2 separate regions of the Homo sapiens genome follow, and region 1 is linked to region 2. The links come from fine-mapping of genetic effects on gene expression. Tissue or cell type: whole blood. Region 2 holds a variant in brackets; the other region holds the start of a gene. All regions are shown on one strand. Distances are between the middles of the regions.

Region 1 (4,117 bases), 84 kb after region 2:
ATATGAGTAAAAGCACGGATTGCTCAACAGGTAGATGCACAGGCAGAATTATAATTTGCATTTTTACACCTTCTTGCTTCAAGAAATGAAACATTCAAGAAGTAAAAAACGTTAAAAGAAACGGGCTGAGTGGCAAATTTCTTCAGAATCAAATTCTAATTTCTGCCAGTATCTCCTAAGCAGTTTTTAGCTTCCAAAAAGAAAGACTCCAAATAATGACAATGCCACATAAGTGAAATGAATTCTGGACAATGACACTGCTCTTTTTTTTTTTTTTTTTGGCATTCTGTGAATTTCCTATTACATCAGTTTCATGATTCAGCATTTTCCATTTCATTTATTTACAGTAATATATGGCGAGATAACCCAAGGTTTCTGCAGGATTGTGGAACATAAGTTACTCTGGGCAGGAAGGGTGTCGCCTTCTGTAAATTTACTATTGTTTAGGAGAACTCAAAACAGAAGCAAGCAAGCCCTCAAAGGAACTGAGAAAATTTCTCCCCACTTTGTTCTGAGGGGTCTCAGCTACTCTGGTATTTAAAATAAATGGGTTTTGAAAAATAGGTTACTGCCCTTTAGTTGATGACTAAAACAGAAGCCAAGAAGTGTGCAAATTGCAAACTGACATGCATGAGCCAAACATATTCTCTGAAATGACAATGTTCAAGACGCAGCTAAAGTCACCACTCTGGCGGTAAGCGTGTTACAGAGAACTAGATTTCTTTCCGGCATCCGCAACTTGGCTGGAGTGACCAAGGAGGAGTTGAAGAGCGCTGGAGATGCGAGGTGCGTTGGCAGAAAACTGTCCGGGCCGGGAGGACCCGGTGGAAACTAAAAGGAGGGTCGACGCGGGTGGCGGGCGCCGAGAGTAAGAGGCGAAGTTGGGCACGGGAAGGAAAGGAGCTGCGAGAAGATTGAGAGGGAAGCCCAGGAGGGGTGGGGGGTTGGGGGGTGCTGGAGACTGCGCGCGGCGGGGCGGGGAGCGAACTCCGGGCGGCGAGGCTCCCGGGTGGAGTCGAGGACAAGAAGGGGTCTCGAGGGTAACCCGACCCGGGTCTAGAGAGAGTCCAGGAGGGAAAGGAATGAGCACGAGCGAGAGAGCAGCTTGGCAAGTCCGGTCCAAGCGCCCCTCTCCACGCCCGGGGTACCTATCCCAGGTGCCGGGAACGCCCGGGGCGCAGCGACGAGGAAGAGAGAAAACTAGCAGCGGCGTCCCCGCCCCGCGTGGCGGGTGTCCCCGGCCGCCCCCACCCGCGTCCCCGGGGCCCCGCGCGGAGGGGAAGACCCGGGCAGGGTCCGGCGCTCACCAGGTAGCAGAGCAGGAGCAGCGCGCAGGCAGAGCGGCCGCCGAGGCCCTGGGGGACGCCGCCACTCGGGACCATGGCTGCGGCCCGGGGGCCGACCGCGAGCGGCGGGGGTTGCTGCTGCTGCTGCCGCGGCCACCCGAGCCCCGCGCCGCGCCGCTGCATGGCGAGGCCGCCCGGATCCGGGCCGGAACAGGTCACCTGGTGCAGGGACCGGCCCCCGCCCGAGGCGCCACCTTCCCGCCCGCCCCCGGCCGGGCCGGCCGCCGCGCGCGGGGCCACCTGCCGCCACCTCCGGACCCGCCGCCGCCGCCACTGCCGCTCCCGCCGTCGCCGCCCCCGCAGCCCCAGCCGAGCGCCGGCTCCTCCCCGCCTCCCCGTCCCCGTCCCCTCCCTCCCCTCTGCCTCCCTGCCCAGCCCTCCTCCCGGCCGCTCCCTCTGGCCCCCGGGCTTCCACCCCTCGGAGCAGCGGGCGCCCACGCAGGTGGGCACCGACCCGGGTCCCGCCCCTTGGCCGCCGCCACCCCCCGCCCGGGTCGCTGGGCCCCGGCGCACCCCCCTTTCCCTTTCTCTCTGCTCCTCCCCCGCCCCCCTTCCGCGCTCCTGCTCTCTGCGATCCCCCTCCTCTCCCTCCGGCTCCCTCTTCCTTCTCCCCTCGCGCTCCCAAACCCCCTCTCTTTTTCACTTTCTCCTTTTCCTCCCTTTCCTCTTTCTCCCTTCCCATCCTCTTCCTCGCTTCCGCATTCTTCCTCTCCCACCCACCCCTTTTGCGGGTCGCACAGACCAGTTCCCGCCCGTGCAATGGGTTTTTGTCTGGTTGCTTTTTTGGCCGGGGCGCCATTCCCGCAGGGCGCAGGGCGAGTGTGCCCCCTGGAGTTGTGCCGCGCAGCTGCCCGGCTCCCAGGCCTTCAGGATGGATTTTGACCCCTGCCAACCTCCACCTGTCCACCTGCGGGGTTGGGACTGCCTCCTTGCTGGCATGTTTGCAGCCGGGCTGCGCCCCACCCTGCCGGCTGGTTCGCGGCACGTTCTGGATGTTTCCCGAGGGTTTTGTGTGGTGCCGCCGCCACCGCCACCACTGCGCTCTTTGTTTTAATTGTCCAGAGTATTGGCACCCAGGACGGGTTTGTATTTGATTTGCATCCCTGTGCTCCGGCTTCCACTTTGGACTGAGAAAAAAATGAATTAATTAGGTCAATACAGTAATACTGGAGCCCCAAATGAAAGGGGTGAGGCCCTGGAAGTGCGCAAACAGCTTTTTAAAAAACCAGGACACATCCTCGGCCTTGGGGACGCAGGTTGAGACTGGCTGCTCTCCGACCCGGGTTCTGCGGCCTGGCGGGGAGGGGCCTCCGGCCGGCGGGACCACCAGCTCGCCGCCGGCCTTGGCTTTCAGGGAAGCGCTTGGCTGTGTCTAGCGGCTCCGACAACTATCTGGGCCCGCAGCTGCTGCTCTGAAACAGTTAATCCACCTTCCAAAGTTCGCAGAAGCTTCCCTTTAGCACTGGTAGATTTGTGCGGATTGGAACTAATAATAGCCTGGGAGCCTGAGAGGCCACAGCCCTTTCCCTGTGCCACGAGCATAGGTCAAGTCACAACAGACGTCGGGGAGAGGCTGGTGGTGAGACGGGGTGCCCGGGATGGTTTGACGGGCGTGGACGCGCCCTCAGCTGCTTCAGTACAGGCCTGGCCACACCAGGCATGGTGGCTCCTCAGCTGTCGTCCACTTTTTTTTAGGTCACCTAAGAGCTGTGGCCTTGTGTGAGTTCCCTGGCCTTATTCCACCGGTTCTCAAACTTCAGAATTACCTGGAGGGATTGTTAAAACACAGATTCCTGGACTTCAGCCCTAGAATTTCTGACTCAGTTGGTCCTGGGAGGGACTTGAGAATGTACCTTTCTAACAAGCTCCTGGGTGATGTTAACGCGCTGGTTCAAACAGCCCTCCTCCATTTCCAGAACTATTGGCTTTTAGGGAACTGGGCTCCTGCTCCTCCCAGCCAGCTGCCACCACATTAAAGCATTTTGGGGGTTTTGACAGATGCTCCCACTATCTCTGTTCCACTTCTGCAGAAACAAAGCACTTAACATTCTTCTGTGTGACGTGGAAAACATTTATTCTATCGAGTGTCCAAGGGAACAAAAGATTTGGTGGCTTTGTCCCAGATCCTGTCTATATCTTTTCCATCAGGTCAAAATACAGACTATGCTTTTAATGTATATGGAAGGAAAATTGTCGGCCAGTTCAGGGGGAAGGGGCTTCAACAGGCATTGCAGCATTTCTAGGGTTGCCACCTGTCTTCCTGGGCCACGCTCCGGAGTTTCTCTCCTCCCACATTGTACACAGATTCTGTTGGTCTTCGGGGAGCTAAATGGTTCCTCGGGGTTGTTTGTAATCAGGATTCATGGAATTGGGAGTTTTCAAGGCCTTGTGAGCTTTGAGGATTTGGGTTTACCTAAGTGTAGGTAAGCAGAGTGCCCCACTGGAGGCTGGACTGTTTCTAACTTGCCATATCCAACTGCTCACTTCTCCCCTACTCACTCATCTCCTATTGTGTTCCTACTGTGGACTGGGCACCACCTGAGGCCCCAGGATTCCAGAGGTAGGCAGGAAGGCTCTGTTTCTGCAAGGAGCACCAGGCATGCAGAAAACCGGCCAGAGTTTGGTCTTCTAAGAGGGATGTGTGAGTTGCTCTCTCATCCTGAGCTAGAGGTGGTGGGATTAACTGCTTCATCCTGTGTTGGAGAGGGGGAGAGAAAAAGTCAAGATTTCTTTTCACGGGGGAGTGGGACGTTTTGATCCAGAAGACAGAA
Region 2 (4,259 bases):
AATTGACCATATACCAATCATAAAGCACACTTTGACAAATTTCAAAGGATTGGAATCATTCAGAATATATTCTCTGATCACAGTGAAATTAAGCTAGAAATCATTAACAAGAGGATAACAGAAAATCCACAAAACATGAATATTCATGTCAAATATACTAAATAACAATGATAAAAAACTTCAAGTCAGTCTAAGTCAAGTTTATCACCAAGGTCAGGTCAGGTTGAATTTGAACCCAAATGTGTTATGAAGAACAATCTTTTGGAGAGCCAGGGTATCAGTGTGAGGGTGGCCTAAAACAGAGGTCGACAAACTTTTTCTGTAAAGAGCAGGATAGTAAATATCTTAAGCTTTGTGGGCCACATATAGTCTCTGTTGCATATTCTTCTTTATTTGTTTTATAACTCCTCAAGAATGTAAAAAGCATTCTTAGCTCTTGGAGCCATACAAAACAGGTACCAAGCTACATTTCATCTATGGGTCATGGTTTGACAACTCCTGTAAAACATTTTCAGATCTGCAAGACCTCAAAAATGTGCCTCCCATTCACCATACCTCAGGAACCTACTATTGGATGTGCTCCACCAAAATTTAAGTGCAGACCAAGAAAGAGAAAGAAAGGGGTCTGACAAAGAAGAGAACCAAAAAAGACACAGATGGAGGGAAAGTAAATACCCATAATGATGACAGTTAATCTCAGCATGACAGCATTGTCCTGAACAAAGACTCCAGGATGGATGTCACCAAGAAGGTTAAATTAATATAATATTTAGATAGGTCTGGACATACCAAGAGGAAATTCAGGCACCTGGAGGAGAATTTGGAGATCAAATACATAGAAAATGATAAGTATACAGAAAGCTTAGCAAATAAACAATAAAAAATAAGTAGCAATCCATAGAAAAGAAAAAGTTGTGCAAGAAAGGAAAAGTAATCAGAGTATACTACATGGTTCAGTTAGAAATAGCATTTACATGGTCATAATAATGTAAACCCTGATACTAATGTAACCAAAATGATATACTTATTGGGAAGATGAAAGATGGCAGGAAGTATGAGTGAGCTGAGTAGTGGGAGGTGGCAGAGTCAAAGAAAACTACATCTTTATCCTTCGCAGTGGGACATCATTAGACAATGCCTCGGATGAAAATACCAAGAAATAGTGGTATAAGCATGTTATTTAGAAATAGAGACAAATAAAAAATAAATAAAATAAAATAAATCTTTCAAAAAAGATTGAAAGTGATTCATTCTAGGGAGCAGAAAATAGAGTCTAGGGGTGGGATGAAGTGAGGTAGGCAAGGATTTCTTGTTTAGCCTTTGTCAAATTATTTTTAAATTTTTAATTAAAAGTTTTAATTTTGTCTTGTCAAATTACATGACTTTTAAAACTACATGCATGTACAACTGGTAAAAATAAAGAACTCAACTTAAAAAATGCTCAGGCACAGAGAATATAGGATATGGCTTTCCCTTCAAATGCAACGTTTGACAGAGTCTTACACAACAGCTTTCTCAGGATCTCTAGGGAATGTCTCCAGGTTGCCTGTGATATAGTAGAGAGAACACCACAAGGTCCCTTCCATGTGTCCACCTTGCGCAGCCTTATGGAAATATTCACCAGCTAAAGTCTGTAACAAGAGATGAACAAACATCGA[G/A]TCATCCTAGCTGGGCTGGTTTCGCCAGAGACAAGGTGATGAGATGCTTTAAGCCTGATATGATTACAGGCTTATAACTTCTGATAGCTTTAAAACCAGGGCAAGCAACAATTCCAGGAAGACAGCCAATCACAGAAGTCAGCCTCTGAGATGTATGACCTTGCCTCATCTATTCTGTTGATTAAGTTTACCCAATAAATAAGACAACATGTAATTATGAATACCATTGCCATCTCATTTGATCCTCACATAACCCCCTGAAGGCTAGATAGAAGACTATATCAGAAGTCAAACCAGGTGAAAATCCAGGCATTTGCTTTCCTAACCCTGCTTAATACCTTTCTTCAAACTCATGTGCGAAAACTGCATTTCCAGTAGGAAGGTGAGAATTAGAATGTGACAATAAGAAATCTTCACTCACAGATGTCTTGGGAGGGTTAGCACACATTTGCTATGCATAAAAATATACTGCCTCTTATGTCATCAGAGACAGGTAGAGGGAAAAAATAAGACAAACATGTAGATGGGTATATTTCCACAGATTACTCTTATTTTTCTGAGGCAGTTGGCTATTGTTTTTTGAAAGCATGGGTGTTGAAGTTAGGCAGGCTTGGTTCAAATCCCAACTCTGCTCCTTACTAGCTGTGTGGACTTGGGCATGTTGGTTAATCTCTCCAAACCTAATTTCCTTCCACTAAAAAATGTGCCTTCAGATAGCACCTAGAGTGAAGGGTTGTTGTAAGGATTAAATGAGATAACACATTCTCAAGGTTTAGCACAGTGCTTCAAAAAGAATAATCTTCCAATTCTTCCCCTCCTACCCCCAAATCTGCTGCTGCCACAATCTTGTTCCTCCCAATAAATGCCACTTCCATTCTTCCAACGCAACAAATGCCAAACACCTTGGAGTCACCCCTGACTCTTCTCCACCTCTCACACCCCACATTCAACCCCTCAGCAAATCCTGCTGCCTCGACCTTCCAAATACATGTAGAACCCAGTTTCAGCCCCTCCACTGACACTGCCCTGGTCTCGCCCACTGCCCTCTCTCACTTGGATCCAATGCATGAACCCCCTGCTCCTGTCCATGTCTCCGGTAGGCAGGATCCAGGAGGAACCTTTTAAAATACAGCCCATCGTTGCCCCATTGAACATTGCCCAGTGGTTTCCCATTTCATTCAGAGCAGAAACTGAGTCTCAGACTGGTCGGCTTCCTCCCTGGTCCTATCTCCCACCCTCTCCATCTCTTCTGCTTTCCACTCCACTCCCCTGGCCTCCCTGCTGCTCCTCTAGCACACCAAGCCTGCTTCCTTCTCAGGGCCTTTGCACTGCCTGCTCCTTCCTTCTGGAATGTTCTCCTAGATATCTGTAAGATTCCTTTAGGAGTCTATACAATATCACCTTATGAGAGAGGCCTTCCTTGGTTCCCTGGTTTCCCTTATAAAATAGCATTTCCCAATCTCCACCCCCTCATCCTACATATATATAAAATATATAAATAATATATATAAATAAAAAATTATATATAAACTATATATAAATAAAAAATAAAATACACATAAATAAAATATATATAAATAATATATATATATTTTATATATATATATATTTTTGAGATGGAGTCTTGCTCTGTCGCTCAGGCTGGAGTACAGTGGCACAATCTTAGCTCACTACAACCTCTGCCTCCGGGGTTCCAGTGATTCTCCTGCCTCAGCCTCTCGAGTGCCTGAGATTACAAGCATGCACCACCACACCTGGATAATTTCTGTATTTTTAGTGATGAGGGTTTGTATTTTTAGAGACGGAGTTTTAAAATGTTGGCCAGGCTGGTCTTGAACTCCTGAGCTCAAGTGATCTGCCTGCCTCAGCCTCCCAAAGTGATGGGATTACAGGTGTGAACCACCACTCTCAGCCCTCCTGAACTTGTTTTAGTTCTCTGCATAGCACTGATCTTCACCTCCCCTCCTATTATATATTTATTTGTTTATTGTCTTTTCCATCTGGTGGAATGAAAGCTTCATAAGATCAGGGACTGTTTTGCCTGCTACTATGTCCTCAGTGTTCAGAAGGGTGCCTGGCACTGGGTGGGTATTCACCACATTTTGTTAAATGTAGCGGAGCTCAGGACCAGGCACAGTGGCTCACACCTGTAATCCCAGAACTTTGGGTGGTGGAGGTGGGCGGATCACTTGAGGCCAGGAGTTCAAGACCAGCCTGGACAACATGGCAAAACCTCATCTCTACTAAAAATACAAAAATTAACCAGGCGTGGTGGTGCACGCCTGTAATCCCAGTTACTCCAGAGGCTGAGGCATGAGAATCGTTTTTATTTTTAACGATTTTTATTATCAACATTATTATTAATAGAGTGGGCTTCCACTGTGCACTAGGCCAGGTCCTCACTCCACTAAGTGTGTGACCCTACGTTACTTAACTTCGCAGAACCTCAGTCACTTGTCTGAAAAATGGACATAACCAGAGTATTAATAGCTATTTCAGAGGAGAATTAGGATTACATAAGAGGGCACATGGTAGGGTGTTTTGCATGGTGCTTGGCACAGAGGAAATGCTTAATCAACACTAAAGATTGCCATTGTGTTT

The links. PIP is the estimated chance that this variant, and not a neighbour inherited with it, causes the effect.
Region 1: it holds the start of SEL1L3, and the variant in region 2 is fine-mapped to the expression of SEL1L3 in whole blood (INTERVAL, PIP 0.97).

Annotation. Positions count from the first base shown.
Region 1 is chr4:25,861,368-25,865,484 of GRCh38, forward strand. SEL1L3 (SEL1L family member 3) reads right to left here and starts at 1,621. Exons shown (of 24, transcript NM_015187.5): 1 at 1,308-1,621. The coding sequence starts at 1,469. It overlaps LOC102723733 (a long non-coding RNA gene), which reads left to right. Exons shown (of 2, transcript XR_427503.5): 1 at 1-786. It overlaps LOC124900688 (a long non-coding RNA gene), which reads right to left. Exons shown (of 3, transcript XR_007058092.1): 3 at 3,841-4,039. RefSeq lists silencers at 620-914, 1,185-1,644, 1,695-1,854.
Region 2 is chr4:25,777,573-25,781,831 of GRCh38, forward strand. SEL1L3 (SEL1L family member 3) reads right to left here. Exons shown (of 24, transcript NM_015187.5): 16 at 1,504-1,631. Among named protein-coding and RNA genes, the nearest start is that of SEL1L3, 83 kb to the right of the region's middle. The variant G/A (reference allele first, on the strand shown) is at 1,659.